2 separate regions of the Homo sapiens genome follow, and region 1 is linked to region 2. The links come from fine-mapping of genetic effects on gene expression. Tissue or cell type: whole blood. Region 2 holds a variant in brackets; the other region holds the start of a gene. All regions are shown on one strand. Distances are from middle to middle. Region 1 holds the start of PFKP (phosphofructokinase, platelet). Region 2 holds the start of SNORD142 (small nucleolar RNA, C/D box 142).

Region 1 (15,393 bases), 64 kb before region 2:
TCAGGAGTGCCAGGAAGTCTCTTTAATCGTCGTTCTCCAAAGTGCTCAGGAGATGAAGTCATTCTGTGAAGTGGACTTCAGTTGACACCACTGAGAAAATGTCCCAGAGAAAGTAAAACTTGTAATGGCATCATACTTTACAGAAATAATGCAAACTTCTTTCTTTCCTTTCTTTCCAGTTTTTAGATATTAATTTTAATTGGTTCAGGGCAACCTGTTTCTGCATCAAAGTCTTGGGAAGCTTCCAACTGTTTTTATTTTTACTTTATTTTTTTAGAAATAGAGTGTCACTGTTTCACCCAGGCCAAAGTGTAGTAGTATGATCACGGCTCACTGCAGTCTCAACCTCCCAGGCTCAAGCAATCCTCAGGCCTCCACCACCTGAGTAGCTGGGACAACAGCTGTGCCACCATGTCCTGCTAATGTTTTATTTATTTATTTATTTATTTATTTATTATAGAGACAGGATCTCGTTATGTGGCCGAGGCTGACCTCAAACTCCTGGTCTCAAGCAATCCTTGTGTCAGCCTCCCAAAGTGCTGAGGTTATAGACATGAGCCACAGCACACAGCGGATTTATTTTATTTTCTCAGAACTCTATGCAACCTGATTCTGCATACTTAAGGAAAAAGAAGCCAGACAAAGGTGGAAGTAGTTACACACAATGTGAGCATCATTTGGCACTTAGACAAGAGAGGCAGATTATAAAAATAAAAGATTCACATGTCACAATTGGCTGTGGGCTTCGATATGGACTCCAGCACTTTTTATTTTTACTTTTTTGGGAGATAGTGTCTCACTCTGTTGCTCAAGCTGGAGTGCAGTGATGTAATCATAGCTCACTGTAATCTCAAACTCCTGAGTTCAAGTGATCCTCCTGCCTCAGCCTCCCAAGTAGCTGGGACTACAGGTGTGCCATCGCTCCAGGCTAATTTTTTTGGATTTTGTAGAGACGAGGTCTCCCTATGTTGCCCAGGCTAGTCTCAAACATCTGACCTCAAGCAATCCTCCTGCCTTGGCCTCCAAAGCTCTGGGATTATAGGTGTGAGCCACTGTACCCGGCCGAGAAACCAACCCCACCTGTTTTCTATATAAAGTTTAGCATCTAGATACAAAGCAAAATACTTTTTAAAGATCAAAGAATCTGCAGGGAAGCTGGTGGGAGGAGAATAGGCTGAAGGCAGCGTTTTCTGATCTACAGTTTTGCTTATTCTTGAACTTTCCAAAGTCCCGAAAGAAGCAGAAGGAAAGTGAGAAGAAGGGAGGAAGAGGCAAGAGGAAAGGAGGATGGTTGCCCCTCTGTGGTTGCAGATTAGCCCAAGGCAGCTCAGTGGCTGGCAAGGAAAGAAGGAATGAAACCCCCAAGGCCGAAGGCAGAGTCAGAGTCCTGGGTCCAGCAGGGTCTGGAGGGGAGGAGGGTGCCGGCAGCCAAAGACCTTCCCGCTAGCACTGCAACCTCTTAAATTGCTTACGCTTTTATCCAAATTTGATGTGTCTGCGTTTTGTAGACTTCCAAAACAAGTCACTTAGGGTAACGCAAGCAGGAAGGGGAGGATGATAGGAGAAGGGGCCCCACCTGATGCCGCCCTTCTGGCTTTTATCCATTCCTGGGAATGACGGGGGACGCCCCTATGGGAGATACAGTGGCGTGGAGCAACAGTGGAGAATTCCAAGTCCGAAAAGCAATTGGCATTTTAAAGGAAAGTAAGAAATCACCCTGAATATATGAAATACTGGGAAAAAAGGTTGTTACTGATAATTCTCAAGAGACCACTCTGGTGAGATTGGGTTTCTCTGGGGATGTGTCAGGCAGGGTATAAGTACTGAGTGGGCACCTCCTACCCACCCTTCAGGCTCCTCCCTCAGCTCCTGTCTCCTGAAGCAGTCAGAGGGCAGCTCCGGTCCTCACCTCCTCTGAGCGACCCGCTCACTCATTCACTCACTCATTCATTCACTCACTCATTCATTCACTCACTCATTCGGTCACTCACTCATTCACTCACTCACTCATTACTCATTTACTCATTCACCCCCTTTTACTCAATCACTCATTCATTCACTTTCACTCAGTCATTCACTCATTAACCAATTCACTCACTCATTCACTCATTCACTAACCCATTCAGTCACTCATTCACTCATTCATCACTAACCCATTGACTCACTCACTCAATCACTCATTCACTCACTCAATCACTCATTCACTCATTAACCCATTGACTCACTCCCTCAATCACTCATTCACTCACTAACCCATTGACTCACTCACTCATTCACTCACTAACCCATTGACTCACTCAATCACTCATTCATTCACTAACCCATTGACTCACTCACTCGATCACTCATTCACTCACTCATTCACTCATTCACTAACCCATTCAGTCACTCAATCACTCATTCATCACTAACCCATTGACTCACTCACTCAATCACTCATTCACTCACTAACCCATTGACTTACTCAATCACTCATTCACTCACTAACCCATTGACTCACTCCCTCAATCACTCATTCACTCACTAACCCATTGACTCACTCCCTCAATCACTCATTCACTCACTAACCCATTGACTCACTCAATCACTCATTCACTCACTCAATCACTCATTCACTCACTAACCCATTGACTCACTCAATCACTCATTCATTCACTAACCCATTGACTCACTCACTCGATCACTCATTCACTCACTCATTCACTGTGGGGAAAAGAAAGAGAGACCAGACTATTACTGTGTCTGTGTAGAAAGATGTAGACATAAGAGACTCCATTTTGTTCTGTACTAAGAAAAATTCTTCTGCCTTGAGATGCTGTTAATCTGTAATCCTACCCCCAACCCTGTGCTCCCTGAAACACATGCTGTGTCAACTCAGGGTTAAATGGATTAAGGGCTGTGCAGGGTGTGCTTTGTTAAACACATACTTGAAGGCAGCTTGCTTGTTAAGAGTCATCACCACGCCCTAATCTCAAACCACTCCCTAATCTCAAGTACCCAGAGACATAAAGCACTGCGGAAAGCCACAGGGACCTCTGCCTAGGAAAGCCAGGCATTGTCCAAGGTTTCTCCCCATGTTATAGTCTGAAATATGGCCTCGTGGGAAGGGAAAGACCTGACCGTCCCCCAGCCCGACACCCGTAAATGGTCTGTGCTGAGGAGGATTAGTAAAAGAGGAAGGAACGCCTCTTTGCAGTTGAGATGAGAGGAAGGCTTCTGTCTCCTGCTCCTCCGTGGGCAATGGAATGTCTCGGTGTAAAGCCGATTGTATATTCCATCTACTGAGATAGGGGAAAACTGCCTTAAGGCTGGAGGTGGGACATGCTGGCAGCAATACTGCTCCTTAAGGCATTGAGATGTTTATGTATATGCACATCAAAAGCACAGCACTTTTTTCTTTACCCTGTTTATGATGCAGAGACATTTGTTCACGTGTTTACCTTCTGACCTTCTCTCCACCATTATCCTATTATCCTGCCATGCCCAATAATGATCAATAAATACTAAGGGAACTCAAAGGCCAGTGCCGGCATGGATCCTCTGTATGCTGAACGCCAGTCCCCTGGGCCCCTTTTTCTTTCTCTATACTTTGTCTCTGTGTCTCTTTCTTTTCCAAGTCTCTCGTTCCACCTAATGAGAAACACCCACAGGTGTGGAGGGGCAACCCATCCCTTCAATTCACTCCCTCATTCACTCACTCCCTCATTCACACACTCAGCCATTCACTGACTCACCCTTTCACTCACTCATCCATTCACTCATTCACTCACTTATTCACTCACTCACTCATTCCCTCATTCATTCATTCACTCACTCACTCATTCACCTCTTCACTCACTCATTCACTTCAATCATTCACTCTCTCACTCATTCACTCACCCTTTACTCATACACTCACTCATTTATTGACTCATTCACTCATTCGTTCATTCACTCATTCACTTGTTCACTCACTCATTCACTTGTTCACGCACTCATTCACTCACCCATTCACTCACTCACCGGCTCATTTGCTCACTCACTCATTCACCCACTCACCCATTCACTGAGTCATTCATTCACTCACTCACTCATTCACTCCTTCGGTCACTCACTCACTCATTCACTCATTTATTCACTACTTATTCACTTACTCACTTATTCACTCACCCATTCACTAAGTCATTGATTCATTCACTTATTCACTCACTTATTCACTAAGTCACTCGTTCATTCACTTATTCATTCACCCATTCACTCACTCACACATTCACTCACTCACGTTCACTCATTCACCCACTCATTTCACTCACTCATTTACCCACTCACTCACTTACTCCTTCACTCATCCACTCACTCACTCATTCACTGACTCACTCACTCACCCATTCACTCATTTACTCCTTCACTCACTCACTCCATTCATTCAGCAGCACCCATGGCAGGTTCACTCTGTCCTGGGCTCTGCTGTTGCCCTGGGCCTGCAACAGGGAATAGTCAAAGATCTCTGAATCCACAGCATTCAGAGTTCAGCAGGGGGGCCTGTCGAGAAGCCCAGCAGATAGGTGAAATGCCCCACGTGTGACACGCATGAGGCTGTTTTAAGAGAAGCGGGGAGGGAACAGGAGTGTGCATGGAGCCCGAATTTCTAACAGGGTGATCTGGGGAGGCCTCACCATGCAGGAGACCTTGCAGGACAGACCTGAGGAAGGTGGGAAGAGTGGGTAGGGAGAGGAGGGCCCGGGCTGAGGAAAGAGCAGGCTGGGCCTGAGGTTGTCGGGTGCCTGCATGGGTCTCTGGGCAGCACTAGGATCCGATGGACCAGTGGGCCATGTGTGGGGCCTGTGACTCCCAAGTCAGCAGAGGAGATGCCTGAATTACATCCTGATAGGTGCACCCTGACTTTGAAGCTGAGGACACCCGAGGCATGGAGGTGGGGTGGAGGTGGGGGCAGAGCAGGGGATGGGGAGGGAGCCTGTGTCAGTCCAGGTCACAGGTGGTAGCTTGGCCCCAGTGGCTCCAGATGCAATGAAGAGCCAGGAGGGACCTTCCTGAGAGACTTGGATGCCAGGGTAGAGGAGCACTGCAAGGCTTCAGCCTGAGACCCTGGGAGGATGGGGTCACCAGGAGCTGAGGTGAGGAAGACCGAGGGGTGGGGGGTTGCGTGGGGGTGCAGAGGCCTAAGCTCAGTTTGGCCCCTGCAGATTTGAGATGCCTACTCCATGCACAGGCAGAAACAGCAGGGGAAGGGAAGAGGCTGCAGCTCAGGTAGCCCTGGTGGTGGAATGTGCAGCCCAACATGCCGGAACACAGGGTTATGGTGCCCTCATGGCTAGGAGCTGCTTTCCTCCTGGGATGGCAGGACTCCTTTAGGGCACATGGGCAGCTCCTGCGCTCACCGCAGAGGGGAAGTGGGAAGGGCATCTGTCCCTATGCATGTTCTCCTTCACCTTGTCCTAGGCAGGTCCCAGGCAGCACCTCCCCTCCCAGTGGCTCCCCGTGGCCCCTGCCCCTAGTGTTCACAGCCAGATCCTCGAAGAGGGCTGGACTCCGTTGCTCACTTCTAATGAACAGAATCAGGCAAAAGAGACGGCGGTCTTTCCTGAGATTGGATTGGGAAGGGCTGCAGGTTCCGTCCACTGGAATTCTCCCCCTGGCTCTTGACATGTGCTAGTTCTGGCAAAGCCAGTCACCTGCCCAGGGCAGAGGGCAGCCTGAAGCTGATGCCAGGGACAGACTGGGGCCTTCAGTCCAACAGCCTGCAAGCAACAGAATCCTGCCAGCAACACAGGAGTGAGCGTGGAAGCAGCTCCTCCCATGATGAGCCTGAGCCTTCAGAAGACACTGTAGCCCTGGGCAGACACCTGTTGCAGCCACAGAGGGCCCCTGGGGCAGAGGGCCCAGTGAAGCCTGTCTGAACTCCTGGTCCAAGGAGTAATCATTCCTGTGGTATAAGTGTGTGCTGGTGTGGGCCACAGTTTGCAGTAATCTGTCAAGGGACAATAAAGAACAAACACACATGTCAGGTCCTACTGGGTGGAAGCCGTACAGTCAACAAGGCATGCAGTATCTTCCTCTTGAATTAGAAGATTCATTGCTCAGGCCAAAGATTAAACAACAAAAAAAAAATCTCTAGTTGTAGCACCATTAAAATACACGACTTGCAAAAAAAAAAAAAAAAAAAAAAAAAAAAAAGAGCCATAGCTATGCTTTTCCATCTTAGCTACAGGTATATATAAATATATGTTAATTCCTTGACTGACTGAGCAATGGGTCAAACTCATGAGAATAGATGTGTGAGGACGGTCAGTGACCACCCTGACCCCAGCCCTTACATACAGACAAACTTTTGAACATAATCCATAACCCTGGGGATCTGGACACTCTAAATTTTATTGTTTTTAATTAACTATTTCTATTCCCCAAACAATACCTGTTCATTGGAGAGAAAAATGGCATTACCTATACTAAGCAAAAGAAAGGAAATAAAATGCTCAGAAACATTTACGTGTGTGCACACTCACACACACACTTACACGCACACGTGCGCACATGCAAGCACAGGCTCACACTGTGTCCAGGCCTGCCTTTTCATTTATTTGTTTGACCTGAACATATTTCCATGTCAGTCGACACTTATCTTCGTAGTGGTAACAGCAATTAAATATTATCGCAGCGTATATTTTTAACCATCATTTATTTAACTCGTCATGTTTGAACTGTTAGGTTGTATTTATCGTTTTCTGTATTACAGACGACTTGATGACAAATGACCAATCCTCTAATGTTCAATATAAAAATATCAATTGCATAAGGAGATAAGGGGCATTTGGCTAAAATAAAATTCAGTGTGCCCCACCCTCTCCACATGTAATTTGCTCTAAAAAGGCATGAATGACTAAATTAGCCCTTCTATTCTCCAGCGCAGCTCCTGAGCCCAGCGGTGGGTGCAGGTGCTTAGAGCCTGGCTCTGCTCTTCTGCCGCCAGAAGGCGAAGGGCACCCAACCCAGGATTCTCCTCTCCTTTTTTATTAATAGAAGAGTGCTCAGGCTCAGTGCATGAGAGCAGCGCTCTCTGACTTTGCACTTATCAGAGTAACCTAGGGGGCTTGTTTAAAAATACACATTCCCTGGCTGAGCTCCCAGAAATTGGACTTCAGTGGTTTAGCGGGAGTGTGCATAGGCCAGGTGATTCTGAGGACCAACAGGGGTTAGGAATTGCCCCGTTAATTCTGGCCAAGGGAGAGATCAGACCATCCAGCATTGTCCGCAGCAGAGTTTTTCCCCCTCTTTTGCAATGAATATTTGATGCTCAGAGGGATGAGCCCCAGGATGAGGCACACATCCAAGAAAAATCCATGCCTCTCCATCTTTTCCCCAGGATTGCCCTAAGGCGAGCCGCTCTTTGTGATTCCTTCACTTTCCCCGGTTCATAGAACAGGCCTCTTCTTAGTCTGTTTTGTTGTCTCTTATCTGTTCAACAAACACCCACTGCGCAGGACCATCCTCCGGTGAGCCGTCGAGTGGGGCCGTTTGGGAGCCCTTCTTCGTGGGTGAGCACTGAAGGAACCCGGGTCCCATAAGCCCGTGCTTCTATGGGGGCTGCCCCCTCTCCCATCGCAGGGTAACTGGCACCAGGCTGTTAAGCTGTGGATGGGCAACCGCACAGTGCATTGGATGTGAGTATTTCAGTACGTGGAGCTGGCCAGTGGAGCCGGCCGAGGTCAGGCAGAGCGTACAGCAGCGCGCGTGTCCGTGGGGAGGGAGGGTCCTCCCGCCTCCCCGCCTCCCCGCCAGGCCAGTCCTGTTGCGCCTCCTCCTGCCCCACTCTGACTTTCCAGCGCCCAGGCCGGGGCGCCGCCAGGGCGTCTCTGAGGGTCGCGCCCCGATACCTTCCTCCACCCCACGGCTTCTTCCCCCCAAGGGCGGGGCTGGGGGCCCAGGAGCACCACAGCCCCCATGGGCCCGGGAAATGGCAGCTTCGTCATGGCCCAGCCCGCCACGCTCACCTTTTCCCACCACCTGGAGGATCCACTCTCCGTCCGTCCTTCCCGACCTCAGGCTGCAGAGGAAACCTGGGGGCGGGGGTCGAGGAAGCCGAGCCCCGAGGCTCCCAGCGCCGCCCCAGGAGGAATCTTGCGGGCCACTAGAAGCTGTGCGCGCGGCCGGGCTCGGCCCCCACAACGGCCCGAGCGGCCGGGCCTGCCGCGAGCCTCCGCGTCCAGGTGGGGTCTCCGCGCCCCCATTCCACCCCTCCCCGCCATCGGCGCTCCCCGCAACTGCGGGGTTTCCACCCGCCCCGGCGCTCGCGCCCACTCACGGTCTCCCTCGCCCCCCCGGGAGATGCTCCCGGCGTTCTATCCCGCCCCGCCCTGGCGCGCCCCGCAAACGATGTGACCCCGGCCCCCTGCGGTCTCCCCTCCTCCGGACGCTGCCCCTGCCCCACCTGTGGCGCTCCCGTCATCTCTAGAGCCCCCAACCAGAGTCCTCCAGCCCACCCGCGAGGCTCGCGCACCTGCGATGCGGCCCCACTAGCAGGGACCCGCCCACCTGTGGCGCTACCCCTGCCTCTGCCGCCTCCCGCACCGCTAGCGCGGCCCCCACCTACGACGACCCCCGCGTAGATGCTCCTGCCCACACCCGCCCCAGCCCCGGCCCCTGCCCCTAGCCGCGCCCGCGCCCCCTCCCCCGCAGCCCCTCCCATACGCTCGGGCCCCGCCCGTCACCGCCCATTGGCGCTGGGGCCGGGCGGGGGCGCGGGCGGGGCGGCGGTTCCGAGTCAGGCGCGCGCGGGCAGGGTCCCCATTGCCTGCTGCGCACCCGGACGTGCGGCTCCCCTCGGCCTCCTCGCCATGGACGCGGACGACTCCCGGGCCCCCAAGGGCTCCTTGCGGAAGTTCCTGGAGCACCTCTCCGGGGCCGGCAAGGCCATCGGCGTGCTGACCAGCGGCGGGGATGCTCAAGGTGCGCGCCCCCCTCCCGGCGGCGAGGGAGGGACGGACGGACGGAGCTGGGGAGAACCGGGCGAAGGCGATGGGGTGACCGGAGAGAAGAGGGGGGAAGCGATGGGGGGGACCCGGGGAAAGGTGGCGAAGCGATGGGGAGAACCGGGGAGAAGAGCGGGGAAGCGATGGGGAGAACCGGGAAGAAGCCCGCGCCCGGAAGCGGCAGGGGTACCTGCGGGGCGGCATGAGCCGGCGAGGCAGCCCCGGGGTCCTTGCCCGGTGGGGCGGGGGAGGAAGGGACATGGCGGTAGGAACCTCCATCCGGAAGATCAGTGAGTTTTCCACCTTCGGTTTTGTTTTAAATGGAACCTGGCAGAGGGAGTCGCCTGAAGCGCCCTCGGGGGTCGTTCTGCCTCTGAGCTGTAGGACGGGGCCGGGCGTCCCCTCCGAAGCGTGGGTACAGCGCGATCACTTCCTAAGTGCCCCCCCGCCCCCCAACTCCGCCGCACGCCACCCCCTAGAATGTCGAGGAAGAAACGGCTGGGTCCCCGCGCGCCTCCTGTCGCCTCGTGCCCTGCGCGGCGTGGGCGGGGTCCTGGCTGCTGCAATGCGGGACGCGGCGGGGGTGCGCGGGGTTCCCGCCTGGCGTCTCCAGGGCGGTCCGGCAGCCCCTCGCGTTTCCGCTGGGAGATTTTTAAAAAGGGTTTCCTGCGCTCGCATGTGCTGTCGCCTTCCGGCTCGTGACAAAAACGAAAACCAAAATGGGTCCCAGGCCCTCCCCGCCAGCCTCCGCAGACGGGAAGGATCAGGAAGCGGGGACTCCGGGATGTCAGCGGCGCCGCGGCGCGGGCTCCGGGCTTCCCTGCCCTGCAATGTGGAAGCTGCTCTCTAGGAGGGGCCCGAGGCTGGGCCCACGGACGCGGGCGCGCCGGGAGGATATTTAACATTGAAGAGCGGAAGGTGGCGGAGACTCGGCGCGCCCCAGGCCCCGGGTGCACGTGGGGGCGCCGGTGCCCGGATGATGGAGTGTCCCGATCCGTGCAATCCCTGGCGGGTAGATCGGCGCTTCCCAGGCGAACGCAACCTGGGAGCCTTAGCGATCGCGCAGGCTGGAGACGCGGCGCGCCCCGAGCTGGGTTTTGATTTTTGTTTTCCCGGTTCCTCCTGCCGCAGATGCGTGGAAAGGCCCGGATGGCGGATTTCCTCCCGTTTCGGGGCCGCGCACTGCACAGGGTTGGAGCGGGGATGCACCCCCTGCCCACTGCGCGGGTGACCTTCCCTTCGCCCTTGAGCGCGCGGGGCGGGCGCGGGTGCCGCAGGTTGAGGCGCTGTGGGCGCCGCCCCGCCCGCCACGAGCGCCTACGTGATGCCCGGCCCGTCGTCTCCACGAGCCCCGGCCCCGACACCCGTGCGCCGCGCGCTCCCCAGGCCCGCAGCGCAGCCTCCCCAGGCCCAGCGCCCCCCGCGGGAGACCCGGGTGGCAGCGCCAGGCCCCGCCCCGCAGCCCGCCCTGCAGCGCCCCCGGGAAGTGCTCTGGCGTTAGCATTCCAGTAAAAGGACCCCAGCATCAACGTTCTTCCTGCAGGGCTGGGTTCTCAGAGAAAGAAAACGTGATGCAGCAGAGGATGGGATTGAAGAAACAGGAGAGTGAAGTGGAAATAGCCTGGCCCGCGTGACTTAAACCGGCCCGGAGATGTGCGGGTACGAATGGAGCCGCCTTGGGGTCGGGATAGGACCCAGAGTGGCTTCTCAGTCAAAGGCCTTCAGAAGCAGAGGGAGCACCTTGAGTGACCTTACCTGGGCCGCGAAAGACAAGAAACCTTTGGCACAGGAAGAGGAACTGATCTCTGGAAGCCACCAGGGCGGGTGGAAAGTCAGGGTTTCAAGGTTATTTTGGAATTTAGGTGCTGTGGGCCTTGTACGGTGGCTCATGCTTGTCATCCCAGTGCTTTGGGAGGCCGAGGCAGGAGGCTCGCTTGAGCCGAGGAGTTCCAGAGCATCCTGGGCAACATAGTGAGACTCTGTGTCTACAAAAAAAAAGAAAGAAAAAAAATTAAGATACTGCATGTATTGGAAAATATTTATGGGTCATTCCTTTGAGCTCCATGTCCAAAAGCTTGCTAAAATGCGCGGGAGTTTGTGTACAGGCATGTGAGATTAGGATACATTGGCAGAATCGCGGTGTTCTCTGTTACCCTGGTTTTGCCACCTGGGAGGAGTTAGACATATTGAAGGTTAGTAAGTCCACGCCTCTTCTTTTCTGGGGAAAATGATACTTTGGAAACCAATATTATGTGGGGAACGCGGCTTGGTTGCTGCAACCTCGGGTTAATAGGAGACAGCTGCCCTCAGCTCTGCAGGTGGCATCAAATATGGTGGCCTCGAGCCCACATGGGTCACACCTGGGCTGTCCCTGGGGAAGCCCGCCATGGCGGGTCGCCTGGGCACTCTTTCCCTGGCAGAGCTGAAGTCACAATTTTTTTGTAGACTCTGTAAAGAGCTTTACCCTTCGGTGATACGATCTTGAACCTGTTGGAGCATTTGGACGCATTTCTTTTAAGGAAGTTCACCTCCAGATGTACTCAGAGGGCCTGGTCTTAGCTGCCACAGATTTACAAACCCTTACAGTAAGTAGGTTATTCCTCGAGAATATCTCAGTGTCCCCATTCTTTTACCATTTTATTCTGATTCTATGTTAGTACTTGATTTTCCCTGACATAGAAGACTATTGCTTGTAGCTAGAGATGAGAGAACATATTCACATTCACGTATTAATTTCAGGGGAATTTTCTGTCAGATGTGAAATTATGGTAAAATTCCGTATATTAAGATGATCATAGCTACCATTTGTTGAAAACATTTTGTATTCTAAGAGCTTTACACTTCTTATCTCCAAGCCTAAATACATGATCCCAAGAGAGGCGTGTCCTCATTTTGGAAGTGGGGAGAAAGACTCAGAAAGAAAAGTAAGTTAGGTAAGGGCATGAGGTGCATACGTGATTGTGATAGGAGCAAAACAGATCTTAATTCCAAATATTGTACTCTCCCGTAGACCACGAAGAGTACTTATGTCTGGCTGTGTCACCCAGGCCAGAGTGTAGTGGTGCCATCATAGCTCACTGCAGCCTCAAACTCCTGGGCTCAAGTGATCCTCCTGCCTCAACCTTCTGAGTAGCTGGGAAGACAGGAATGCACCATCATGACCAGCTAATTATTATTATTATTATTATTATTATTTTTGTAGAGACAGGATCTCACTATGCTGCCGAGACTGGCCTTGAACTCCTGGCCTCCTGTAGTGATCCTCCTGCCTTGGCCTCCCAAAGAGCTGGGACTACAGACATGAGCCATTGTGTCAGGCCTCCACCATCTCCACCATGTTTTTCAGGGACCTTTCTTGGTGAAGCTGCTTTATCTAGTTAATGCTCAAAAGTGAGCAAAACCCGATTTGCCCAAAATTACACAGATATTCTTTGGGTGGCTTTGTTAGGGGAACGGAAAATGCCTTTTTATAGTGATAGGAGTCCAGGTGGCAAGAACGATATTATGTGATGGGCTGCTTTTTCTTCTCTCAGTAGAGTGTATATTATTTAATTATAAGATACAATTGAAAATCTCTTTCTCTTTTCTATATTCCCGACTCCCCGGGCCTTGAATGAAGAAAGTATTTCTCAGGCTGTTTTTGTTTGTTTGTTTGTTTGTTTTTTCTACTTGCTTGGATATCTTCTGTCTCAGGCTGTTTTTTTTTTTTTTTTTTTTTTCTTTCTCTTCTTCTGCCTCTTTATGTATCTTCTGTTGTCCCAAGACATGTCTGGAAACTTAAATTGATTTTCACTCAATCTGAAATAAGCTCCATAACTCTGAATGGCGGACTTACCATGACTAAGTCCCCACTGCCACAGAACACTGTGCCACACACCAAGAGTGACTCATTGTCTTAGTCACAGGTTGTGGCTTCTGAAGGTCCTGGTGCCTGGTGGAGCTGAGTGTACTGGGAAGTCCAGGTGCATCCTTAGGGTAGGCTGCATGTGAAAGCTGCGTCCTTTTTGCCTGTGGTGAGGTGAATATCAATACAGTATTTATAGAAAGTCCACATAAATTGAGTAAGTACAAACCTTTCCAATCCTAGTGAGAATAACTAGCATTAATGACTCTTTGTTATGTGGCAGGGCCTCAGTGATCCTGGGCAATGACTTATCCCTATTTTACACATGAGCAAGGGGCGCCTGAGTTGCACCACCTTCCCTGAGTTCACAGAGCTCCGTGGTGGGGCCGGGCCCTGTGGCTGCAGCAGGGATGTTCAGGGCTGCGCGTACCTGCGTCTTCACTGGTGTCTTTCCCGCGCCCAGCACCATGCCTGGCGCTTCGCAGGAATGCAAGTGTTTGCTGCCTGCCTCCTGCCTGGAATCTCCACTGAGGAGCAGGAAACCAGGGGTTCTAGCTGTCTTCTTCGTCCATGAAGTCCTTTAGAGGAATTCAACCCTCTCTAATTAAAAGTATCCAATATCCTCAGGTCAATATGTGTAAACTGTTAAGACTTCAAGATTAGAACCTTAAAACCGAAGTCAGAAGTGTGAGGTTTCCATTGGCTGGACGTGCATTAGGTCAATGACACACATATTTATTGGACACCAGGCTTGAGCCCCACATGGGCACCTTTGGTGTCTGAAGCAATGCTGGCTTCGGAGCCCAGTAGGGTGGAAGGGGAAACTGAGAACAGCGCCATTTTGCCTCCCACGGCTCTGGGCCCGTTACCTTCCTGTGTACATACATTATTTGATGGGATCTTTTCAGTGTAAAGTGCAGTAATTAATTTTGCAAAAATTACTGGGTCTGGGAGGCAGTGTGTTGGAATGATGGTGTCACCATGTGGCACAGTGGGAGATTTGTGTAATGGCATCATTTTCTGTGAATGCAGACCGTTTTGTGTGCCATACTCGAATGACCCTTCGAAGCTAGACATTTTGTCATCTTTCGAAAGAAGCATGTTTTCCCCCTTGGTTACAGAAAGCTAAAAGCTTTTGATACAGGACTCCAACCTTTTATCAGGGAGAATTAGGCTCTTTAAATAATTAGGGCTCTACCAATCTGATGGGCCATCAGAAGCAATTAAAATTAGAAAGGTGAAGATACGGTAACGTAGTCAGGACAAACATCAGGATACCAGATTGCACGTTCACAATGGCATTTCGGCTAAGAAAGTGCGGGTGAATATAGAACAGAGGGCCGTATGTCAGTAATTGGGTTCCGTTTTGTGTTTCTTTTCCACAAGCCCTTTCTGGTGTTGTGTTTTTGTTTATTAGAGAGTAGCTGCCCAAAGGCTACAGTTTCCCTCCCCACTCCTCGGTTCTCTCCGTCTTCACCCCCAACTCCCAGTCCTGTGTTTGGAATTACAGTCATTGTGCTTGTCAGGATGTAAGAGGCAGCCAGACACATGGCAGACCAGAGCACTGAGAGGCAGAGACATTTATAGGTCCTAGCCCTGGTCCTGCTGTCTGGGTCAGCAGGGTGCTGAGTGCTGAGTGCTGAGATAGGGTCTTGATGTTTTCCTCTGCAGAATGGAGGCATCACTCAGTCTCTGTCTCCTCTCCCTGTCTCTGTCTTCCCTCCCCTCTTCCCTAACACATATCCACAGTGAAAGTGTTCAGGAGGAAAAGAGAATAGGCTGGACTGTGCTGGGACCCCCAACCCCAGGGCCCGTGTGCTATTTTCCCAGCCTCCGTGTGCCCAGAGATGCCTAGGGGAGCCTGCGGAGGTGTAGATCCTGACTGTGTGGGTCTGAGTGAGGCTCCGACTCTCACGGGGAGGGCACCGGTGCTGCTGGACCCCCTGGGGCCAGTGGAGCGGTTTGCAAATCGGGCAGATCAGCTTCTCCACTTCTCCAGGTTTCCCCAATGTGAGATGCTCCCAGGAGTCCCATGGGATTGTTTTCTGACTTTGACCAGGATTTTGACAGAGAAGATTCATTAATATAGGACCCCTTGTCTAAACGTACATATGTAAATGATCTGATCCGAAGTTTCCTGAATGGAAAATGATTGAAAGGGTGGCATGCAGTAGCCTCGGGGAGTCAGTCCTTCATATCTTTTCAGCTGTGTCTTACTACGATTAAGATTTTATTTCTGTGTGTGTGTGTGTTTTTTTTGTTTGTTTGTTTGTTTGTTTTTGAGACGGGATCTTGCCCTCTTGCCCAGCCTGGAGTGCAGTGGCTTGATGTCGGCTCACTGCAACCTCCGCCTCCTGAGTTCAAGCGATTTTCCTGTCCCAGCCTCCCAAGTAGCTGGGATTACAGGCATGCGCCACCATGCTCACCTGATCTTTTTTGTATCGTTAGTAGAGATGGGTTTCACCGTGTTGGTCAGGCTGGTCTCGAACTCCTGACCTCAAGTGATCCACCTGCCTTGGCCTCCCAAAGTGCTGGTATTACAGGCTGGAGCCACTGCACCCAGCCTTATTTCTGTGTTTCTGT
Region 2 (12,796 bases):
ACGTGGATGTCAAAAACACCTTGCTGTGTGGGGCCACTTGGAGGTGGGAACAGTGGGCGTGTGGACCTGTCCTGCTGTGACTTTGGTTAACACCCTGAGGTGGAGTCTGAAAAACCCCGGTGTACACGGGCTCAAGAACCGCTCCCCTTTCTGATACCGGAGCGCATTTCCCAGTGGAACCCCAGAGCAGCAACTCAGGTTCTTGCTCGCCTGTGCGGCTTTGTGTGCGGCTTGCCGAGGGCAGAAACGGCAGCTTCCGCCCGGAGAGCAGAGATGTGGCGTGGGGCTGAGTGTGGCCCACCGGTAATCCAGCTGCATGCCCCCTTCCCTGCCTGCACCTGGGCGCCGCCTCTGCACGATGAAGGCGGGCATTTGGTGTGGTCCTTACAGCCGTGTGCCCCATCCCACTGATCCTTGCCTGCCTGCAGAAAGCTACAGGATTGGCTTTGCCTTTAAGTGTCCTGACTGCCCTGGCCTCCCTTACCTACCATGACACGCCGAGAGCTGAGCTGTCCCACTCGTGACTAACTCGCCGTTGCCTGCAACCTGCTCCGTTGCCTGCCTCACACCACCCCGCTGTGCTGCCTGCAGGCACCCCCTTTCATGAGGACCTGGGCTGTGCCCAGGCGGCCCCCTGTGTTGCTGGGGCCTGTGCTGCTCTCGCACGGCCTCCAGAGCCTCCCTCGGCCCCTTGACCCGCATGAACCGGCTTCCCCTGGTGACTCAGTCCCCTCCCGTCCCTTCCTGGACCTCAGCACAGGCCCTGGGGCTGGCAGGTGAGCACCCGGCACCCCCGCTAACCGCTTGGCCCTGCTGCTTCAGGCTTACAAGAGTGCGTGCGACATGGCCGAGGCACGAGGCCGCCACCAGGAGCTTTGCATCCCCCTGTGTGTGGTGCCGGCCACGATTAGCAACAATGTCCCAGGCACAGAAATAAGCCTGGGCTCCGACACTGGCCTGAATGCTGTTGTTGAGGTAAGAGAACCCCGTTTCCTCTCATTGCTTTTCCGTCATTTATTTTAGCAACTTGTTTCTTCTGTGCTAAGGATGAGCCGGATTTATTCTTCTTCTTTTCTCCCCTTTGTTAGCTTGGCTTTATGTCACACTGGCCAGAACAGGGTAAAATTTTTTTAGCTTCTCTGCCTTAGGGAGAGCCTGTCTTTATTGATTAAAAGTGAGATGATATATCCAGTCCTTGGGATCGTGTTTCTATCCCACCTAGACTAGGGGAGCCGCAGGTACCATTGCTCTGGAGGCTGCCTCTCCTGCCCACGCTGAGTAGTGAGGCTGCAGGGCCAGCTGTGGGAGCCTGCAGGAAGGGGTGTAAATGCCCGGTAAGTACGAGCTCCAGGACAGAGCCGTACCCACTGGGGGCCGCTGCCTGGAAAACAGCCTTCCTGGTGAGACAAGAGGCTCTTTAGAGAGCCGAAATCACGCCCTCCTGGGCAGGCGGTTTCACCAACATGTGCCTTGGGAGGGGTGGATTCTGCCAGTCGTGGGTGTGGTGCTGACACCCACATGGTGGCCCCTCCGGTCCCTGATACTCTGACCTACCTCTATGGTCATAAGCTGGACATGAAGACCTATGGTAGTTCCACAGGCCTTTGCTGCAGAGACGGTCCTCACTCAGCTGCAGACAGGACGGTGGCCACCGTGACATGTGGGGTCACGTCCGTGACTTGGCCACCTGGTGCGAGGGACCCACAGCAAAGCAGAACTGCTGGCCGGGGTAGGCCTGCATCGCGTGCGGGGACAGCAGCCACTGGCCTTTACCTTACATCTTGACGTCCAAGCCAGCTCCGGAGTTTGCAGTGAAAACTCCCAGTCCTGCTGGAGACTCCTTAGTTCAGCTTAGCACAGAACCTCGGAAGACAGCAGTTCTATTCCGGGTACTTCCTTCAGAGCTGAGTTACAGTGCAGGGAAGGGAGCAGAGGAGCCATGAGGTCGGCTGCAGCTTCCTGTGAGTCCGAGCCTCAGCCTCCCACTCGAGCTGAGGGGCGTGTCCTGGCCATCTCTCTCCTAGGCTTCTCCCTGTGTTCCCCAGTGCTGTGGTGGTCTTGCAGAGGCTGGCCCTGGCTCATTCCCAGGACTTCCTTGGGCCCCGCACTTGACCCCTGTTGGGTGAATGCCATTAGGGTCCGGCCATCGCTGGCTTCACTCTCCTTTAGCACCTTGTAGATGTCCATGCACACTTCCACCCTCGCGCCCCACACGCGACGCAGCCCTACCCTGGCCAGCAGCTGTGCTTTGCTGCGGGTTCCATGCTGTAGCAGGGACAGGACCCCCACCCCCTGTCCCGTCTGGCCACCGACTTCAGCAGAGGCTCGGCTGCCGTGAGGGATACCAGTCATGGGAAAACTGGCCTCCCTGCAGATTCACAGAGCAAGGTGGTTCTCACAGAGAAGTCAGTGGCTTTTTTCTACGTTAATGCTGTAGCAAACGCCACCTTTTCTTTCACCACCAATTTATATTTCTTAACACCCATGGAGCAAAGTGTGGTGATGTTTGAACTGTAGCCTGGGGCTCTCGCTCCCATGGGACTCCTCGGGGAATTTCTCAGCAGCAGGATCGCCTCTGCGTCCTTGCAGGGGGTGGCGTCTGCTGGGGGCACATCCCATCGTGCAGGGGGAACGGCTGAGGTCACAGGCTTTGCCTGACAAGTGCCACTCACAGCTGCTGTCCACGTGCCAGCCCTGGGACACAGCCCTCTGCCATCCTTCCACCCACTCGGAGGCCAGGGAGGCACCTCCGTGCCACACTGCAGGCAGGCAGGGCCGCGCTTGGGATCTGCCGCCTTCTTGTCAGTGCTGCTTTGACTAATTGCCTGAGGCACGGCCGGAGTGACTTGCTATTTTTAGAAGCTAATTCAGGCTTCAGATGCCATCTAGGTAATGAGGAGAGAGTTCAGGAAAGCTGTATCTAAGCTCCAGCAAAGGCGGCCTCTTCCGTACCAGCTGTCGCTGCGTTTACACTGAGACGAGCACACAGTCGGGGGCGTGGCTCAGGTGTCAGGGCTGCGCTGTTCCACAGCCCCCTGGGGCAGCCTGGCGGGACCAGAACTCAGACACGCCTGGGCACAAATCAGCCTCTTGGGAGAGCTGCTTTGCCCGCAGAATTCTTTTGCCATTAAGCGGTTGATGTCATTCTTTGAATGAGTGACAGTAATTCCCCACCTCAGGGTGGGCTGCGGGGGAGATTCAGTTGGAAAAGTAACCCATGAGGTTTTGTGCCTCTGGGGGTCCTGAGGCCCCACCCGTGCCTGGGATTCTCTAAGACAAAGGAGAAGTCTTAAAGCCTTACAGCGTCTTAAGTCTTAGATCACATTTAGAGAGACCCGGTACAGGTGGAACAGTGCAACCCTCAGAATTCTGCACTGGCCCTTCAAGAAGGCAGTTGTGGGCTCTTTGGACCCTTGACGGGGATCTGTCCTCTGTCCTCCTAAGCACAAAGATGGGAATTCTTCCCATTGCCTGTTTCTCTCCCCATCTCGGCTTCTACACAATGCAAAGTGGCCCGCTAACTAGAGTCCGTGTTCAGTTTTGAATACATCAACCAATTATTTTGGGAAGAAAAGAATCTGCCAAAGAAACTGGAAATACAGTTTGGAATCATTTAATCAAGCCTGCATTTATTAATCAAAGTGCACTTTTAGATTTCATCCGAAGTGCTCAAGTGAACATTTCCCAATGGGTGTTAAACTTGGGTGCACAGACTCTCACGTGGCTCCTAGTCTCAAGTCCACACCCCCACTTCATGCTCTTACTCTTGGCTGAGTCCCATGGAGGCCCATTAGGGAATCCTGCAGGATCAGCCGTTGACCAGGACGGACGGACGGCTGGCTGGGGAATACCATGCTTATGTCATTCAGAGACAAGCATTTCTTGAGCGCCTGCTGTGGGGGCTCGGCCGGGTGCTGCTGATGGTGCACTGGTGTAAGCCCAGCCCACAGTTCCTGTCCTCATGGAATTTGCAGCCTAGTGAGGAAGATCCTCCCAAGTCAAATAACCACAAGGTAACTGCAGGGAGAGACACCGGGATAATTTCTGTGAAGAGAGGACATGGGGTGGCTCCGAGAGCCCCTGACAGAGGGAACTTTGTGGTCCTAGAAACCAGGTGGTGTTTTCCTGAGGAAATGACATTTTCCTCTGGATCAGAGCTGAGGAAGGTGCCTCTGTGTGTCCCGTGGCCGCTGTGACACTGACCACACACCTGGGGCTGGAAAATAATACTCTCTCCCACAGCTCTGGAGCGCAGGAGCCATGGGCTGAGGCCAGAATGTTTGCTCCAGGAGCGTCCCTCGTGGCCCGTTCAGGTGCCCAGAGTTGCGGGCCTTGCACGCCTTGTACGCCTTGTTCCCTGGCGCCTCCTCCTTCCATGTGGGTGTGCAGCATCCCGCTCCAGGGCCTTCAGCCTCTGCGCCCCTCATCTGCTGATGCAGGTGATGGCATTTAAGGCCCACCTGGGTACTCCTAGGATTCACCTTTATCACCGCATGAGGGAGCATTCCCAGGTTCCAGGGATTAGGGATAGGACTGGGATTCCTTTGGGGGCTGCTCTCCCGCCCACCACTGTGCCGGAATGTGATGCACACAGCGGCCAGCATATCCAAAGGCCCCAGGAGGACCTGGGGTGGCTGGAACAGGACCTGGTGCCGGGAGCAGGCGGGGCCGGGGATTCCCGACAAAGGCTTGATGTGTACTTGAAGTGAGCAAAGGGTTTTGAATAAACCAAGAACTGGATCAGATTTATGTTTTTTATAGATGGGGTCCTTTCTGTGTGAACGGATTGGAGGGTCCCGGGGTGGGAGCTGAGGCCCAGGAAGAGGGCGTTGCAGCCGGACTGATGTATGGGTGGGAAGGCGGCCGATGCATTTCTTTGCCATTTTTCTCCCCGCCGAGCTTGGGTCCTCATGGAGGGCGGATGGCAGACATTTCACTCTGGGATCCGATGCCTGTGCATCTGGAAGACTTCCCCAGGTGCCTGGGTCTAAGAACCACCATCTGCCTTTGAGTAGAGTTTCCATAAATGTAACATTCGCCAATGGATGGAAGATGGCCGCACCTCTAAAATCACAGGGAGCTTTTCAGAAGAAAATAGAATAGCACAGCGGTTCTCACGGACTAAGCTGGCAGGGGACAGTCCCCTAACATCTCAGCTAACACCTAACGGTGTCTGTGTCCGGTGAAAGCGGCTTCAGCAGGGACAGTCACAGAGCAGCGTGGAGTGAGCTGGCTTGTGGGGTCGTCTTTTCCGTCCCCTTCTATGGGGCCTGGGAGAAGGGAGCGGCAGATGGCCAGGCCCCCAAAACGGGACATCGAGGTCACCTCCAGGTGGCTGCCATGGTGGGGTTGCGGGGGACCACGTTCACACCCACTCCGAGGGCACATCCTGGCTGCTGCACACCCTTCACCTCTGCGGGATGCTGGGACCGCATGTTTGGGCGCGGTGGGGGGGCCTTGCTGCACTCACTCTTGGGGGAGCTCTGGGATGGTGGGCGCGCCCCGGGCCTGGGCTGGAGTGACTGATCGCTTCTCTGTGACCAGACCTGCGACCGCATCAAGCAGTCCGCCAGCGGAACCAAGCGGCGCGTGTTCATCATCGAGACCATGGGCGGCTACTGTGGCTACCTGGCCAACATGGGGGGGCTCGCGGCCGGAGCTGATGCCGCATACATTTTCGAAGAGCCCTTCGACATCAGGGATCTGCAGGTATGTGACGGGGCTGGCCTCAGGGCCCGTCCCCTTGGGATCCACTGGGTGCTGCGGAGTGAATCATCGTGTCTAGGGTGGTTTGCTTTCCAAGGGGCATGGAGATGGAGATGCTACAGAACATGCCACGCTTGATACACTTCGCATCGCCCAGGTGCCCCTACTGCGTGTCAGGTGACGGTGGGTGTGCCTGGTTGAGGACACCTTCTAGTCTCATGTGTGAAACACAAGCTTGTTTGTTTGACATAGTCTGTTGTGTAGTTAATGTTGTCTCACTTATGTCACCAATGATTTGAGAACCTCCGCTGACAGTCACCACCCACGTCTGCGACAGGCTCTGAAGGTTGCTGCAGCTTCTTTTAAATCCTGAGGCCCCTGATGCTGCGTCTGCCTCTAAACGGACACAGACATGACCGTGGTTTCTCGGCATCTGTGGCTCTTTTAGGGAAGGGTGTCGCTGACCCCGCGGTCTGCCCCTGCTTGGACGACACAGCAGAATCCAGGCCTGGACCCTGCAACATTCAAAGTTGCTAAACTTCATGCAAGATGACAGGCCTTGGCAGATAAAATGCAACTTGAACAATTGTCTTTATTTAGAGAGGGAGTCTTGCTGTCACCCAGGCTGGAGTGCAGTGGCGTGGTCTCGGCTTACTGCAACCTCCAACTCCCAGGTTCAAGCGATTCACCTGCCTTAGCCTCCCAAGTAGCTGGGATTACAGGCACGTGCCACCACGCCCAGCTAATTTTGTATTTTTAGTAGAGATGAGGTTTCACCATGTTGGTCAGGCTGGTCTCAAACTTCTGACCTCGTGATCTGCCCACCTCGGCCTCCCAAAGTGCTGGGATTACAGGCATGAGCCACCGCGCCCAGCACCATTGTCTTTTAAAAAGTTAGGATGTTACTTGTTTCTGAGCCAAATAGATCAAGTAAAAAGGGCCTTGGCACTAATTATGTGACATGTGAATCACGAATTTCTTTACCATGTCAAATATTTGTGGAGTCATTCACTGCATCATGATGTTTCTGTCAACAGTGGGTCCCATAAGATTATAATGGAGCTGCCCCAAACAGGTGCAGTTTTTTATCTTTTATAAAAACATATCTTTTTACATATATTTTTATAATATATATTTTATAAAAAGATGTTTTTTATCAAAAAATATGTATCTCTTACTGTGCTTTTCTACATCTAGACATGTTTAGATACACAATTGCCTGCAGTATTCAACAGTCCCAGACATTCAGGTTTGTAGCCAGGAACAACAGGTGTGCAGCAGGCTCTGCCTCCTGGGTTTGTGTGAGTTCACTGTAGGATGTTTGCGCAAGGCTTAAGTCACCTAGCAATGCATTTCTCAAGGAACATATCCCCCTGTTACATGACTCATGACCGTATTTCAGAAATCTATCCAAAGATCCTGCCTCACCAGCGCTCAGCATGGCAAGGGCTTAAGAGAAATTATGACAGATTTTTATTTTTTGCTTTAATTTTTGAGATGGAGTCTCGCTCTGTCACCCAGGCTGGAGTGTAGTGGCACAATCTCGGCTCACTGCAACTTCCGCCTCCTGGGTTTAAGCAATTCTCCTGCCTCAGCCTCCCAAGTAGGTGGGACTACAGGCACCTGCCACCACGCCTGGCTAATTTTTTGTATTTTTAGTAGAGACGGGGGTTTCACCATGTTGGCCAGGCTGCTCTCAAACTCCTGACCTCAGGCAATCTATCCGCCTTGGCCTCCCAAAGTGCTGGGACTACAGGCATGAGCCACCATGCCTGGCCTCCTACTTTGTGAAATTCTGCCATTGCGCCCAGTGACAGATTTGATTAGATGTAAAAACCTCCATTTTCTTAGGATGAATCATTAGAGAATTACCTCCCTCTTGTAATCCTCCTAACATGATCTGAAATGGGGATGTTCTTACTCTAAGACCATCTTTTCCTTAAGAAATCTGTGTATGAATGTGAGTCTACAAAATTCTTTGGTCAGACACTGCTCATCAGGCCGTCACATGAGATTCCATAGAAAGGCCACAGGTCACTCTTTCCTCTGAGAGCACCGAGAACATCGTCATGCAAATAAACAAGGAGCAATAGAGCCATGAATGATCACTAGGCAAAGCACGGAATTACCATTTTCAGAGGGACCCTGTTGACTCTGGAAGGTGTTGCTAGTGGCCGCCGTGAGGGCTGCTCACCGTGCCCTGTCCTCAGCGTTCATCGCTGCAGACGTGTCCTCCCTATCTGGGAGGAGGCTCCCCAAGACCCAAGCCGCGAGAGCTGCAGCCTCCTTGGCCACGCTCACTGCCACACTTGGTTGGCACTTCCCAGCCTGCAGTGCCTGGCACACAGTAGGTACTTAGTAGAAGTTTATTGTCTGATTAACAAAATACTCTCTTCCAGTCCAACGTGGAGCACCTGACGGAGAAAATGAAGACCACCATCCAGAGAGGCCTTGTGCTCAGGTGAGAGAGAGAGACCAGGGGCTGATCTTACCCTCACCGCCACACCCTGGTTCTTAGATTCTAGTCTGTGACTTGGGCTGGATGAGTGGTCATTTCTTTGCCGCTAGAGTGCACTACACACACTGAGCAGGTGCAGAAGACAGCTGTGGTGCATTGCTCTAAAGGCTTGCCTGCATTTAGACAACTAATATTTTTGCTTTATAGTCTCTTATTCTTTGATATCTTGCAATCATTTCCCTAATTAGCACCTGATGTTTATGAAGAAAGAAGGAAATACAGTCATCCCTCTTAGCCTCAGGGACTGTGTCCCAAGACTGCAGTGGGTGTCTGAACCTGGGGATAGTACCCGCCCCCTGTATACACGAGGTTGCTTCCATCTGATAACCAAGG[T/C]GGCTACTGAGTGACTCGGGCAGGAGGCACAGACAGCATGGAGATGCAGGGCACAGGGATGATTGACGTTCTGGGTGGGACAGCAAGAGAGCACGAGATTTCATCACGCTACTCAGAATGGTGTGCAATTTAAAACTTACATATTTATTTCTGGAATTTTCCATTTAATATTTGTGGGCCTCAGTTGACCACTGGACCATGGGTAACAAACTGCAGAAAGCAAAACCGTGAACTGGAGGGACTGGTGTTGATGTAGAATCACCATAGGGTTGGGGGATGCGGGAGTCCAGCCTCCCAGGGCCATCTCCCCAAGCAGGGAGCCACGTGCCCACTGCACGCTAAACAAAGTGACTCCTTCTCGCTCGTTTCAGAAATGAGAGCTGCAGTGAAAACTACACCACCGACTTCATTTACCAGCTGTATTCAGAAGAGGGCAAAGGCGTGTTTGACTGCAGGAAGAACGTGCTGGGTCACATGCAGCAGGTAGGCCCGAGACTGCATGAGGGGCCACAAAGCCCCTGTCATGTGACTTTTAAAAGATTAGTGTCTTATTTTAGCCATTGTGGGGAAAAATGTATAAGTAAATTCCAAGATGATAAAAAACATCTGAACTTTTTGAGACAGAGTCTTGCTCTGTTGCCCAGGCTGGAGTGCAGTGGTACAAGCTTGGCTCACTGCAACCTCCACCTTCCAGGTTCAAGTGATTCTCCTGCATCAGCCTCCCGAGGAGATGGCAGTATAGGCACCCACCACCACACCCAGCTAATTTTTGTATTTTTAGTAGAGATGGGGTTTCACCACGTTGGCCAGGCTGGTCTCAAACTCCTGACCTCAGATGATTCACCCACCTCAGCCTCCCAAAGTGGTGGGAATACAGGCCTGAGCCACTGTGCCCAGCCAAAACATCTGAACTTTTAAGTGATGCCAAACATCACCAGCTTTAGGATTCTTTTGTTGGTGAGGTTTGAGTAATGGGGATTTTAAGGGAACTGTCAGCTTTCATGAAAACAGTGATACCCCCATTACTTGGAAATGCTTATTCAAATTAAACACTTCATCAAGTTAAAAACTGGAGCTTCCCTAAGATTTAAAATGGATTATCAGACATGTAGTATACTTGACACCCCAAGTCAGAATGACCTGGAATGAGCTGCACACAGGCACACACGTGTTATGAGCTGAGCCTGGGACACAGGGTCCAGGCCTCCTAACTTGCACACACTCCTTCCTCACCACCTCCTATTCTTATACTTTTAAGCCAGAGCCCATGAATCCCCTGCAATGATGATGAAATAGTAGGCATATGTGTGATCTTCTTAAAGAATCCACAACGGTTATCAGATTAAAGCTGTGACCCATCCCCAGCTCAGATGAGTTCATGAAATCCTGATTTAAGATTTTAAAATAATGAAGATTGTTAGTTGACTTGTTCGGTTTATTAAAATCCTCATCTTACTGAGCGGGGGGAACACTTGATACTTTTTCTTAACAGGCCAAGTTCAGGCTACGGGAATCACAGGTTTTGTTCTGTTCCAACTATAAGGACCTAGAAATAAAAACATGAATTCTGCAAAATAGAAATTGTCATTTCTATTTAACAGCAAAGTGTTACTGTATAACTGGTATTTCATATAACTCTAACCACCAACAGGGTGGGGCACCCTCTCCATTTGATAGAAACTTTGGAACCAAAATCTCTGCCAGAGCTATGGAGTGGATCACTGCAAAACTCAAGGAGGCCCGGGGCAGAGGTAAGGGGTCTGGGGAGGGAGGCCACAGCCTCGTGATGCAGGCCGTCCTGCCTTGGTGAAAATGCTGTCCTATCGGGGAGAAGTAGGGTGCTGGTTCCTTCTTCAGTTCAGTACTGAGCTGCACGTGATGTTTTACTCCTGATCTCTGAGTGTTGCTATTTAACCAACCTTGGATTCCTGGGATAAGATCAGCTTGGGTATGACATGTTCTCTTTTATCACTGCTAGATGCAGTCTGCAGTTCTTTTGTGCAGGCTTTTTGCTCTAGAGATCCTGAACGTTGGCCAGCAATTTCCCCTCACAGTTTAAGTGGGGCCTTCTATTTTTTGAATGTTTGCTAGGACAACCTCCTTGTGACTATCCATCAAAACTTCCAGTTTTGAGGAAGATCTGACTGCTGAATGAATTGTTCATGTTTGTAGAACTGCATGTTCGTAGAACTGTGCATGTTCTTCCTTAAATCAGTTCTGTAAGTTACATATTCTAAGAAATCTTTAAACTGAAGTTTCAAGAAACATGACTTTTTTATAATACTCTTGTTAATGGCTCCAACATGGCTGTTCCCCACTCATTCCTGAGTGGCTCTTTGTGCCAGCATCTTTCTCACCCCCACCCCCCTCAGCTTTCTTAATCAGTCATAGCAGATGTGTGCTTTTATTCCGGCAAACCACTATCACTGCCAGTGTCCAACTTAGAAAAATGACAGTCTATAAAAACCAGTGATGTGAATAGTTTCAATGGGTTTGTCTTTTTGAAGAACTGACTTTGGCTTTGATTCTTTCTACAGCGATTTTCTTTTGCTAATTTAGCTATGGATGCTTTTTGCCTCTCAGTGTGTGTATGTGTGAGCATAAATTAGTGTCCTGTAATTTAAGCTAATTTCCCTATTCCACTATTTAGTGAAAAATTCTCTCCACTGGGAGGAAAAAACAAAAGCTGCTTTCCAGGAAGCCCTCGGGGCAGTCCCACAGGAGCAGAGCTGCACGAGGCCAGGTGCTGGCCCCACTGCGCGGCTGTTCTCAGTCTCACTGGGCTTCCAGGCCGGGTTCAGCATGGTTCTGAGGAATCTCAGTTCTCATCTCGCCCCGTGATTCTGCTCCCCCACCTGCCCATGTTGACAGGGTGTTATTAATCTTTTTTAAAATCTTTTATAGGAAAAAAATTTACCACCGATGATTCCATTTGTGTGCTGGGAATAAGCAAAAGAAACGTTATTTTTCAACCTGTGGCAGAGCTGAAGAAGCAAACGGATTTTGAGTAAGTTGGCTGGGTTCCCTGAGGCAATAAGACCCCAATGTGAGTACGGGACAGGGGAATGGCCATTGCTGTTGCTGTCGGCAACTCATTCAGGGGTTTGAGGAACTGGCTTTTCTGAAGCTCAGTTAAAAAAATACTAGGTCTTGGCTGGGCGCGGTGGCTCATGCCTATAATCCCAGCACTGTGGGAGGCCGAGACAGGTGGATCACAAGGTCAAGAGATCGAGACCAACCTGGCTCATATGGTGAAACCCCATCTCTACTAAAAATACAAAAATGAGCCAGGCATGGTGATGCACACCTGTAGTCCCAGCTACTCAGGAGGCTGAGGCAGGAGAAATCGCTTGAACCCGGGAGGCAGAGGTTGCAGTGAGCTGAGATTGCACCACTGTACTCAAGCCTGGCGACAGAGCGAGACTCCACCACTGGGTCTTCGGGAATAATTTTAAACAATGGTTTCATTTGATCCTGAAATTGGCTTTATCATCTAGTTGATTCAGCCGACCCTACAAACCCTGTGTTTCTGGCAAGACCGCTCGCTGTGCTGGCCAGGCGGAGGCATCTCCCGCCAGTGACTGCAGGCCTCACTGCTGTCTCCTCTTACCTCCACAGGCACAGGATTCCCAAAGAACAGTGGTGGCTCAAGCTACGGCCCCTCATGAAAATCCTGGCCAAGTACAAGGCCAGCTATGACGTGTCGGACTCAGGCCAGCTGGAACATGTGCAGCCCTGGAGTGTCTGACCCAGTCCCGCCTGCATGTGCCTGCAGCCACCGTGGACTGTCTGTTTTTGTAACACTTAAGTTATTTTATCAGCACTTTATGCACGTATTATTGACATTAATACCTAATCGGCGAGTGCCCATCTGCCCCACCTGCTCCAGTGCGTGCTGTCTGTGGAGTGTGTCTCATGCTTTCAGATGTGCATATGAGCAGAATTAATTAAACATTTGCCTATGACTCCAACAGTCCTCTGTTTTAGTTTTTTAAGTAGGAGATTAGTACCTCAATCTATGGGTGGCTACTAAAGGTTTTCTCAGTTTTGTGGGCAAAGATTAGCAAAATATTTTTATAGGGATCACTGAACTATGCACACGTCATACAAGGAGAACAAAGCCAGGAGTTCACACAGGCCAAGGGGAAGGCCACGTTTACTCACCATTCCATATCTGCCATGTGTCAGTTTCCATCCACAGCAGCAGGCCGGGACCCTGGGCCTCGACCCCAGGCTCCT

What was found. PIP is the estimated chance that this variant, and not a neighbour inherited with it, causes the effect.
Region 1: it holds the start of PFKP, and the variant in region 2 is fine-mapped to the expression of PFKP in whole blood (TOPMed, PIP above 0.99).

The regions. Positions count from the first base shown.
Region 1 is chr10:3,058,765-3,074,157 of GRCh38, forward strand. PFKP (phosphofructokinase, platelet) reads left to right here and starts at 8,784. Exons shown (of 22, transcript NM_002627.5): 1 at 8,784-8,943. The coding sequence starts at 8,832. It overlaps LOC124902536 (wiskott-Aldrich syndrome protein family member 1-like), which reads left to right and starts at 7,806. Exons shown (of 1, transcript XM_047426132.1): 1 at 7,806-8,584. The coding sequence starts at 7,939. The coding sequence ends at 8,376. PFKP-DT (PFKP divergent transcript) reads right to left here and starts at 8,169. Exons shown (of 4, transcript NR_160681.1): 1 at 7,989-8,169. RefSeq lists enhancers at 4,072-5,022, 9,823-9,892, 14,685-15,186 and silencers at 8,513-8,612, 8,623-9,022, 9,443-9,622, 10,036-10,216, 10,303-10,502.
Region 2 is chr10:3,124,275-3,137,070 of GRCh38, forward strand. It overlaps PFKP (phosphofructokinase, platelet), which reads left to right. Exons shown (of 22, transcript NM_002627.5): 17 at 5,545-5,709; 18 at 8,106-8,167; 19 at 8,929-9,040; 20 at 10,209-10,308; 21 at 11,462-11,564; 22 at 12,176-12,528. The coding sequence ends at 12,305. It overlaps SNORD142 (small nucleolar RNA, C/D box 142), which reads left to right and starts at 9,830; the gene lies at 9,830-10,024. RefSeq lists enhancers at 4,941-5,454, 11,709-12,210, 12,211-12,710. The variant T/C (reference allele first, on the strand shown) is at 8,558.